Linked DNA regions of Homo sapiens: region 1 is linked to region 2. The links come from fine-mapping of genetic effects on gene expression. A gene starts in region 2. The other region holds a variant in brackets. All regions are shown on one strand. Distances are from middle to middle.

Region 1 (5,524 bases), 33 kb before region 2:
TCTCCCTTAAGAAACCTATCTGACACAGAGCACAAGGCGTGATGGTTGTTCATGGATCAGCCAGATTGAATTAAGGTTCAATTTCAGGTTAGAATCAGCTGGAAGAGATGAGACCCCCAAAATAGCAGTGGCTTCAGCAAAACAGAGCTTTATTTCTCCCTGGCGGGATCTTCAGGCTGGTGGCCCAGGTTTGGAGCAGCAATCCTCAGGTGCAGGGACCCTGTGCCTTCTGCCTTGCCACTCAGCATCATCACTGCATTTCTCAAGGTGGCTGCTGGGGTGCCAGCCTTTATGGGCAGTTCCAGCCTGCAGGAAGGAGGAAAGTGGAAAGAAAGGTGCATCCGCCTAGTAAGGGTGCTCTCCAGAAGTTGCACACACCACTTCCACATATGCCCATTGACTAGAATACGGTTAAGTCACATGATCACATTTAACTGCCAAAAAACCTGGGGCAATGTAGTGTTTATTCCAGGCAGCCAAGGATCCACTTAAAAGCTAAGGGTGTTTCTTATGAAGGAAGAACTGAAAATACATATTAAGGGACAACAAGCACATAGATTGAGGGAGCCAACCAGGAACATCAGGAGCCTCAGAGAGTCCCTCGAGAGACGAGCTCACATGGTGTGCTGGTATTTATTGCTACATAACAGCTTACCCCTAAATTTGGCAGCCTGAAACAGCAAACATGTTATCTCGTGCAATTTCTGAGGTCAGGGGTCTAGAAGCAGCAGAGCTGGGTGGTGCTTGCTCTCTAGAAAGGCTGCAGTCAAGCTGTCTGCTGAAGCTGAAGTCATCTTAAGCTCAATTGGGGCTAGAAAATCCACTTCCAAACTGACCTCACAGGGTTGTTGCTGGAGGCTTCAGTTCGTTGTCTTGTGGGCCTCTCCATTGGGCTGCTCACAACATAGTAGTTTGCTTTCCTCAGAGCAAGAGATCCAAGGAAGAGAAGAAGGAAAAGAGGAGAGAGAGAGAGAGAGAGAGAGAGAGAGAGAGAGAGAGAGAGAAAGTCATCTAAAATGGAAGCCACAGTCTTTTCTAACCCTTCTGAGAAGAGACACGTCCTCTCATCTGCTGTTTTCTTTTTGGCCACAGAGCCCAATCCTGGCACAATGTGGAGGAGGATATGAATCCCAGGAGGCAGGGATGACTGCAGGCATCTTGGAGGCTGACTACCAACCATGGATAGGTAAATGAGTGCCAGGAGTTAGGAGATCACACCTCGGTAGAGAGAGTTCCTTGAGCCAGGAAGACTATGCACAGGCTCAGGAAGGCTGGCTGGGCCTAAACAGAAGTGGGTCAAAGGTTAAGGAGTATGTCTCAGTCTATTTGGGCTGCCATAGCAAAATGCCATAGACTGGGTAACTCATAAATAGCAGAAACTGATTCCTCACAGTTCTGGAGGCTGGGAAGTCCAAGATCAAGTTACTGGCAGATTGGGTGTCTGGTGGGGGTCCATTCCTCATAGATGGCATCTTCTTGCTGAGTACTCAACATGACAGAAGGGGTGAACAAGCTCCCTGAGGTCTCTTTTATATGGGTACTAATCCCATCCATAAAGGCTCTGCCTTCAAGACCTCGTCACCTCCCAAAGGCCTCACCTCCTCATTTCATCACACTGGGGATGAGGTTTCAACCACTAATTTTTGGTGGGAGGAGACAAATATTTAGACCTTAGCAAAGTACAACAAAATGTTCCTGTGGTTGCTTTCTGATATTCACCCAATCACCCTGAAGGGACAAACCTTTCTACCACTTCAAAGAGGGAGACAATCTTACTAGCATGTAATAATCAGCACTGTTACCCACAGCTCAAGCCCTCACCCTAGAAACAAAGCCAAGACCACTAAGTGGGTAGGTGTCCTGGCTAAGTGTGGACACAGGGCACAATCAGAGATGTGAACACACAAAGAGCTTCACCAGCTTCTCACAGACCCTGCTTGCCTTTCGAAGTGATGAATACACATGGCCTGGTCATTCCAGAGACTAATAAGACCCCTCTGGCCCATTACCTGAAACTGGGGACCCAATACCATGCAGATGGACTGAGTCATTACAAAGGCAATTAAATGCCCAACTCCATAGCCAGGTGCCAACATGTAGGCTTTTGTGCATGGATAACTTAGTTCTTTCAGGAGGGGAAGAATCTTTAGTCTTATTTTCTCTCAAGCCTGGGGTTAATTGGGAAGCCAGCTTCGGTGACTAGTACACAGAGGCTAATTTGTACAACCATTGCTCACAAGTGGGTGGGGGGGATGACGGCAAAAAAAAATAAAAATACAACATTGCTGGAGACAGTCTGCCATTGAATTGGATCTTAATATTCTAGTCCATGAACCAGCGGTTGCACTAGAGCTTGGTTAAAAAAAAAAAAAAAGCAGGAAAAACCCACACACATTCTTTCAATTTCTAAAGGGAAATTTGACT[C/T]GGGCTGTAGAACAAAGGACGAAGAAATAGAAGTAAAAGAAAATCAAAGAAAAAGTTATTTGGATTCAAGGGGATCAGATGTTTCATTTATTGCAGGTTGGAGACCTTCAATCAGCCAAATGAAAGGAACATTTGTATTAAAATACCTATGAGGCAGAGAGAAAGCCTTGATCGGGTGCAGCAGAGTTAAGTTACAGCAATCGTGCTGAGAGATATGAACCCACCTTCGAGGTTATCTGTTCCCAATATTGAAGGTTTTCTGTGTTACAAACCTGAGATGAAAGGTAGTTGTTTTGACGTCTGGGTCTGGAAGGCAGACGCTGAAATTAGCAGCATTCTTGATGTGTGTGCAGCAGGAACATGGAGCCCGGGATGGGGTGAAAATGTAGCTGCTTTATTAAAAGGAAACGATGTTAATGCAACACTAAGTGCCCAAGTCACCCATGAGGGTAGGGTGTAGATGGGGATTACAAAAACACCTTCTGAGAAGGGGCAGAGAAGGAGCACTGCACTAGGGGTCTGGGACCAAAGGTATAGCCCCTCCTCTGACCCTGGGTTGGTAGCTCCAAAATAGCTGGGACTTAGCCTGTCTAGTTCACAGTGCCAGGCATATAGGAGGTGTTTGATATATGTCAAACAAATGCATGAATGAATAAATGAATATGAACTTGGGCCTCTTTGGACCTAAGTCTTACAAAATAAGGAGCTGGGACTAACTATGGATTTCTCCAGTGGGATGAATACCACTGATGGTTGGGCAGCACATGGATGGGTTTGGGTGACATGCAAAGACATGGTATTAAACAGTACTAACTCAGAGAGAGAAAGGTATCACTTCTGGACTCTTTCTAGCCTCTGACTCCCTCTAAGAGAAAGTCTCAATCCAATGCTAACATCTCTTTAACACCTCTGCAATGTTTTCAACCCTCTCTTCATAATGATAAGAGGGGAAGGCCCAGGCTCACATCCTCAGCAGGCATCAGCATCCAACTCCATTTCATAACTTGATTTATTTCCTTTGTACTTAATTTCACAGTTGCCTTTCTATGTATGGCAAGTGATAGTTTTTCCTTGGCAGAACTGATCTTTTTAGGGTTTCTTTGTCAGACAGATGTTTCTAAGTAAGCACGAATTGATGTAAAGCCACCATTAAGGAAATAACAGCTCAAGTGGGATGCAGACAAGGAAAATATCATGATGATGAGAGATGGTTTGGAAAAAAAAAAAAAGAAATTGTCCCAGCTGACCTTGAAGGTCTCTTCTGGAAACACTGAGCATCTGAAGTCTAGGACTCCACTCTTCTGGTTTATGTAGAGCAAATCCAGCAGTCTCTAGCAAAGAGGTGACTGCAATCCGAACCTTTGGAAGATGGGCCTATTCATGTATCCATTTATTCATTCTCTCAATAAGTATTTATCAAGAGCATATTATATGTGCACTGCTGTTCCAGGCACTGGGATAGTAGTGAAAGAAAAATAGGGAAAAAGTCTCTGCCCTCATGGAGTTTCTGTTTTAGTGGTTTGAGGCAAGACAGGGACCAGGGCAGGTAAATGAGGCACTGAGGGTGTGTAATGTAAGGAGGCACCTGGTCTCAGGACTGCGCATGACCTTGACCTGACTTGAGACGAGTTTCCCATCCTGACCGTAACCTGGCATAGTTGTCATCATTCTGGGGGCCACAAATCCTGTCCCTGGAGGGTCTGGTGTAATTGCTCTTTGGTGGGTCCCCAGACTAGTATCTGGGGAGAGCAACAAAGATTATTCCCATCCACTTCCAGGATTGAGAACCACTGACATGGACCAAGAAACCTTCAAATTTTTTGATTTGGCACTTTTCAAAGGCATCAACCTTCTTAGTCACTAAGTCGATCTTCACTTACCAAATAAATTAACTAATGAGTGAGTTGGTATGTTGTCACTCACCATAATGACAAAAATACTCCTGTCCTCTGCCTCCTTACCAGGTGTCAGGTAATATCATTCACTTTTTTTTTTTTAAATGAAGTCTCGTTCTGTCTCCCATGCTGGAGAACAGTGGCCAGATCTCGGCTCAATGCAACCTCCGCCTCCCAGGTTCAAGTGATGCTCATGTCTCAGCCTTCCAATAGCTGGGATTACAGGTGCGCACCACCACGCCTGGCTAATTTTTGTATTTTTAATAGAGATGGGGTTTCGCCATGTTGGCCAGGCTGGTCTCAAACTCCTGACCTCAAGTGATCCACCTGCCTCAGCCTCCCAAAGTGCTGGGATTATAGGCATGAGCCACTGTGCCCGGCTTCATTCACTCTTTACATTTCTTGTTTCATTCCATCTTCACAATCACCTACAAGATAGGTGTTATTATCATCATCACCCCCTTTTGAAGATGAGGACACTGAAGGAAAGAGAAGTTAAGGAGCTTAACCCCAGCCCAACAAAACTTGCTAACTTTACCCAAGCTAACTTAGCCAAAGAAAACCCAGAAGGGCCATGCTCCTAACCCCTGTGCCCTACTGCTTCTCTATGGGATGAGTCTCAATGCCTGGGGACTTGGTCACAGGAGTTACAGCAAAGAGAGTGCATGTGAAAATGAGTGAAGTAAGGAGTCCTTTGTACCTTAAAGATAGCACATAGGAATAATTGTCACTTCCACCAAAAAATGTGTTCCTTCTCATTCTTCTCCAAACATGAGTCTAATTCTAGGTTCATTTTGCTTCCATGTCTGTTAAAGCCACAGCCATACAACTGTGGTCCTCTATATAAGAAAAAAGCAACAGTGCAAGCATGGTATTACATAACAACACATCCCCTGGTATTGGGGAAGTCTTGGGGCATGGTGGGGAGTGTGGCTAATTGGGAAGAGGAGCCTGTCCAATGTCTCCAGATTTCCTGACTTATCAAAAGAAATAAGAAATTTAGATTTAGTTGAGCCAGGCGCTGTGGCTCACGTCTGTAATCCCAGCACTTTGGGAGGCCAAGGCGGGCAGATCACGAGGTCAGGAGATCAAGACCATCCTGGTTAACATGGTGAAACCCCATCTCCACAAAAATACAAAAAATTAGCCAGGTGTGGTGGCGGGCGCCTATAGTCCCAGCTACTCAGGAGGCTGAGGTAGGAGAA
Region 2 (5,000 bases):
CAGCTCTCCCAGGCCCCACCCAGCTTCCCTCCTGCAGTGCTTATGCCCAGTTCATGCACCAGTCTCCAATCCAGCCATCTCCTCTCACCCCTGGCCCTCAGCTTCATTTGCCTGGGCCTGTGACACCCAAGGTCTTGGAACCCTATTAGGTTGGTGCAAAGGTAATTGTGGTTTTACCATTGAGTAAAACCACATTTACTTTTGCACCAATGTAATAGATGCTGAAAAAACGGCCTTGTTTGGGAGCTCAGGAAAGCAGCTGGCTGAATTCAGAGAGACAGGACTGACTGGGATCCCCACAATCCTCACTCTCCTGGGGAATGGCCCCTCCGAAAAGCACCCTGCAGCCCCCGGGCTGATTTCATTGGGATATGCAGGAAGCCAACCGCTCCTGCTCACAACAACTACTCAGCACTGACTGTGTTTCAGACACCATCCTCAGCATCAGATGAGCAAAATCTAACACTCTCAGATGCCATCTGAGGTGGGCTTACTGAATATCACCCTTGGAAAGATGTGGAATTGTAAAAGAAGAAAAAAGGACCTCCCTTTGCTAGAGTGGGATCTTATTTCCGGCAGCCAAAGAGGCCAGGGCTGAAAAACGCCCAAATGGCCTCTGAAGCAAAATCTCACGATGAAACAAGCCTCAAAAAGCATTTACTAGCATTTCTGGTCATGGCTGTTACGGATGAAATGGTGCCTCACCTTCTGCACCCCCTCTGGCCCCCACACCTTCTATGTTCCTATCTCAGGGATTCTCCACAGGGACCTGGAAGGACAGCTGAGTGGACCGAGAGATCACACGGAGCCACTGTGAGGGGTCAGGGGATAGGGAGAGTGAGCTGCCCAGGGTGGCTGCAGAGAGGGGAGCTTGGGGAACAGAGACCGCAGGGAGAAAGAGCTGAGTGCAGCCTGAGCCCGTGATTTTCAAGCCCCGCCGCTGGCCTCCTAGGGTTCTTGTAATCATACTCCGACTCCCTTCTCCTTAGTTAGTCTAAGGGGGCTTCTGTTTCTTGCTCCCAACTGCTGCCTCACTAAGATAGACTCATTTTCAGATCTCTCTACGGATTGTAGCCTTTCCTGCAATTCCTGCCTGGATGGCTGCTCCTCCAGGCCTGGACTGGATGGAAGGTTCCAAGCGAGAACCTGCAGCATTTCTGCTTCTGCGGCATCATCCACCTCTGAGAACCACTCCAGAGGACAAGCTGAGGAGCCTTCCAAGAGCTCCATGTGTCTGTAAATGCCTTCAAAACCTGGTCTCAGTGCATCCTTTTTGCACCCACAGCCAGATAGCTGACCACACAACATCAGGATAGAGTGGTCACCACCCATTTTCTGTCATGGGAAAGGAAATTGCCCGGGAAAGGCCTTGCCCAGTGCAGACATGGCAGGCAATGCTGAGAGCTACAAAATCCTTCTAGAAGCTGTTGTCTTTCAGTTATTAAGACTATAAGGGCTGGGCATGGTGGCTCACACCTGTAATCCCAGCACTTTGGGAGGCTGAGGTGGGTGGATCACAAGGTCAGGAGTTTGAGACCAGCCTGGCCAACATGGCAAAACCCTGTCTCTGCTAAAAATACAAAAAAAAAAAAAATGCGCATGCCTGTAATCCCAGTTACTTGGGAGACTGAGGCAGGAGAATCGCTTGAACCTGGGAGGTGGAGGTTGCAGTGAGCCGAGATCACGCCACTGCACTCCAGACTGGATGACAAAGCAAGACTCCATCACGGAAAAAAAAAAAAAAAAAAAGAAGGCAGGCTGCCTAGCTTAGCTTTGCCATGACTAATCTACTTACCAGCTAAGCAACATTTGTGCAAGCTATTTCACCTCTGTGTGCCTCAGTTTCTTCATCTATAAAATAGAGATAATCATTTTACACCCCTCAATAAATGTCTTTTGAATCAATTAATGAATACTTGTAAAACACCTGGCATATTGTAAGCCCTTGTTAAATGTAAACTTTAAATGTTAAATGGTTTCTTTCTTTCTTTCTTTCTTTCTTTCTTTCTTTCTTTCTTTCTTTCTTTCTTTTCCTGTTTCTGTTCTCTCTCTCTCTCTTTCCCTCTTTCTCTCTTTCTCTCTTGGAAGGTCTCACTCTGTTGCCCAGGCTGGAGAGCAGTAGTGCAATCATGGCTCACTGCCTACAACCCCACCGTAAGTCCCTCTGGGATTCCATGATAGAGGTACTTATTCCAATTAGGGTCAAGCTGGAGGAAGAGGCGGCTGTGGCCTAGCTGTCAATTCCTCAGGGCTGGTCATTGGGGAGGAAGGGCAGGAACCAGCTGAGTTCACTGAGAGTTGGAACAGGAGACGCAGAAAGGTACAGATTTGGAAACTGACCTGGGTATCACAGTTAGGGCTCCAGGGCACTCCAGCCTGCGGTGGGAGTTTGTAGGTGTCTAAGCTGTGGCTGGGAGGGCAGTGGAAGAAAGTCAAGCTGTGCCAATTTTCCTATTTGAAGAGAAAGGGAGCAGGGGAACCAGAGTTCTAGGTGACACCATCGGGAAGACAAGCTGTGTCCTCAGCCCGGCCTGGGGGGAGGACTGGGTTGCAACTTACAGGAAAGAGGATTGACTGGATTCTTAGAAAAACAAGAGCCAAGGCTTGTTGCTGTGCAGAGGGATTGGGGTCACCAGCTGGCTGTTGTTACCGTGACTGATTCCTGATGCTTCGGAATTCAAGGGCAGGAGGCACTTGGGGCACTGGCTGAACCTTGGCTCCCTGACCCCTCCTCAGTCCCCTTCCTGGGCTCCACAACATATAAGATGAACGTTCTGATTGTCTATTTCTCCTCCCTTCTCGTTTTACTCTTCATTTGGTGGAGTGTATGGTAGGGATAAAATCTTAGAGATGTTTATCTGAGCCATAGAGAGACCTTATTGGGGGTGCATGGGAAATACACAAGTAATCCCAAGCTCACCTTGCCTGGGTGCCTGCGGAGGGCAATTGTGCATTAGCGGTAGAGTGTGGTGGGGACCTGGGCCTGGGTGGGCAGGGGAGAGCTTCTGGACAGGGGCTGGTGGATTAAGGTCATGCCCATAGGTGGGAAGCCACCCACACAGAATCACAGCATCTCAGAAGGGCAGTGCCAGAAAAATCCCCAGGGACCTCATTTTCCTTGGAACACAACCCAATTCCTTGGCTTGGCCAACCAGGCCTAGCGCATCTGGGCCCAACTTCATCTGCCTTCATTCCTCCACTGCATCAGTAGGGTCATTTGGGTGTAGGCCACAGAAGTAAACTCTGGCAACATAAGCGAAGGGGGATTTGTTAGAATAGGATAAGGGAGCCAGGCAACTGGAGCAGACATCAAGGTGGGAACACCAGGCCTCAGGGTCCCGCAGTTGCTGTGCCTGGGCTGCCATTGTTCCATCTGTATCTATGTCACGCGAGGTCATATGAGTGGGCCGGGCACGGTGGCTCACGTCTGTCATCCCAGCACTTTCAGGTGGATCACCTGAGGTCAGGAGTTCGAGACCAGCCTGGCCAACATGGTGAAACCCTGTCTCTACCAAAAATATAAAAATTTGCCAAGCCTGGTGGTGGGCATCTGTAATCCCAGCTACTCAGGAGGCTGAGGCAAGCTAATTGCTTCAACCCAGGAGGCAGAGGTTGCAGTGAGTCGAGGTCATGCCATTGCACTCCAGCCTGGGTGACAAGAGTGAAACTCTGTCTCAAAAAAAAAAAAAAAAAAAAAAAACCATATGAGTGTCCCATTGGCTCAGCCTAGATTACAGCCCCACCCTGGCAGGGTAGTAGGAGGAAGGCTTAGAACTGTCTTGGCTTCTGAAGAGGGCAGGACAGTAACCCAATCCACCTTCCCAGAAACACTGTCCTCAGTGGGGAGGAGGGACAACTCCCAAGGAGATGGGGACACATGCTCGCCAACCAAACCCACAAAAGCTCATTGTGCCTGTCGCTCTGCTCCAGCCACAGTGGCCTTCTTCTGTTCTTCAAATACAAAAAAGCTTGTTCCCACCCCAGGGCCTTTGCACTTGCCATCTGCTCTACCTGGAACACTCTTCCCCTTGTTCTGCATGTGACTGCTTCATTTTCCTCCTTCAGGACTCACACCTAACAAGGGCCTCCAAGAGGCCCTCCCTGACGACCCATTCTCAAGTTGCCCTCATCAGATAATCTTGACCTCATCCCTCCCAGGTCTCCTAGCCATCTAAAATTACCTTGTGTATGAGTCTGTTTGCTCTGTATTGCCTGTCTCCCCACTGGAATGCAAACGCCACAAGAGCAATGACTGCGGTTAATTGCTGCTATATATCCAGCACTCAGCACAGGGCTTAATAAGCATTTACCAGGCAAATAAACATATAGAGACAGAGAGCCCCAGAGGGACGGTGCTTTGGCCGAGGATGCCCAGAGAAAATACTGATGTCATTGAGGGTGCAGAAGCCAAATCTTGCTTGCTCCGGGGGCACTGGATGGCACCAGCCTAAGAGTGTGGGCACCAGAGCAGATTGCCTGGGTCAACACTCACTCTCTGTGTAACCTTGAGTGAGTTTCTTAACTTCTCTGTGCCTTGGTATCCTCATGCATAAAGAGATGACCATAATAATAATGCATTCTCAGGGGCTGTGGCAAGGATCACATGAACTAATACATGTAAAGTACTTAGAACAGGGCCTAACAATATTGTAACACTGTCAACAAGTGCAAGCTATTATGATTGGAAGACTTCCATGTCCTTATTTCTGATTGACAGGTCACTGCCCAGCCCCACCCTCGACCCAACCAGGATGAAGAATGGGCAAGCCAGATAGCTACAGTAATCGACAGACAGACAAACAAGAGCATCGTATGACCCAGGGGCCAACAAGTCCCACCCCAGTGACACCATCTCACTTTTGCAGAGCTCTTGCTCGCAAAGTGCAGCTAGGAGAACCCAGGCCTCCTGATGACAAATGCTCCTTCTTTCTGCCCCCCACGTGCCAAGAGCGAGGAGGGAAGATAGCTGCTGGCTCACTGTGTGGTCGTGGGTGAGTACA

Evidence for each region. PIP is the estimated chance that this variant, and not a neighbour inherited with it, causes the effect.
Region 1: its variant is fine-mapped to the expression of MMP2-AS1 in whole blood (INTERVAL, PIP above 0.99).

Annotation. Positions count from the first base shown.
Region 1 is chr16:55,426,665-55,432,188 of GRCh38, forward strand. It overlaps MMP2-AS1 (MMP2 antisense RNA 1), which reads right to left. Exons shown (of 7, transcript NR_147198.1): 5 at 2,697-2,816; 6 at 837-920; 7 at 133-306. Among named protein-coding and RNA genes, the nearest start is that of MMP2-AS1, 33 kb to the right of the region's middle. The variant C/T (reference allele first, on the strand shown) is at 2,425.
Region 2 is chr16:55,459,835-55,464,834 of GRCh38, forward strand. MMP2-AS1 (MMP2 antisense RNA 1) reads right to left here and starts at 2,463. Exons shown (of 7, transcript NR_147198.1): 1 at 2,341-2,463.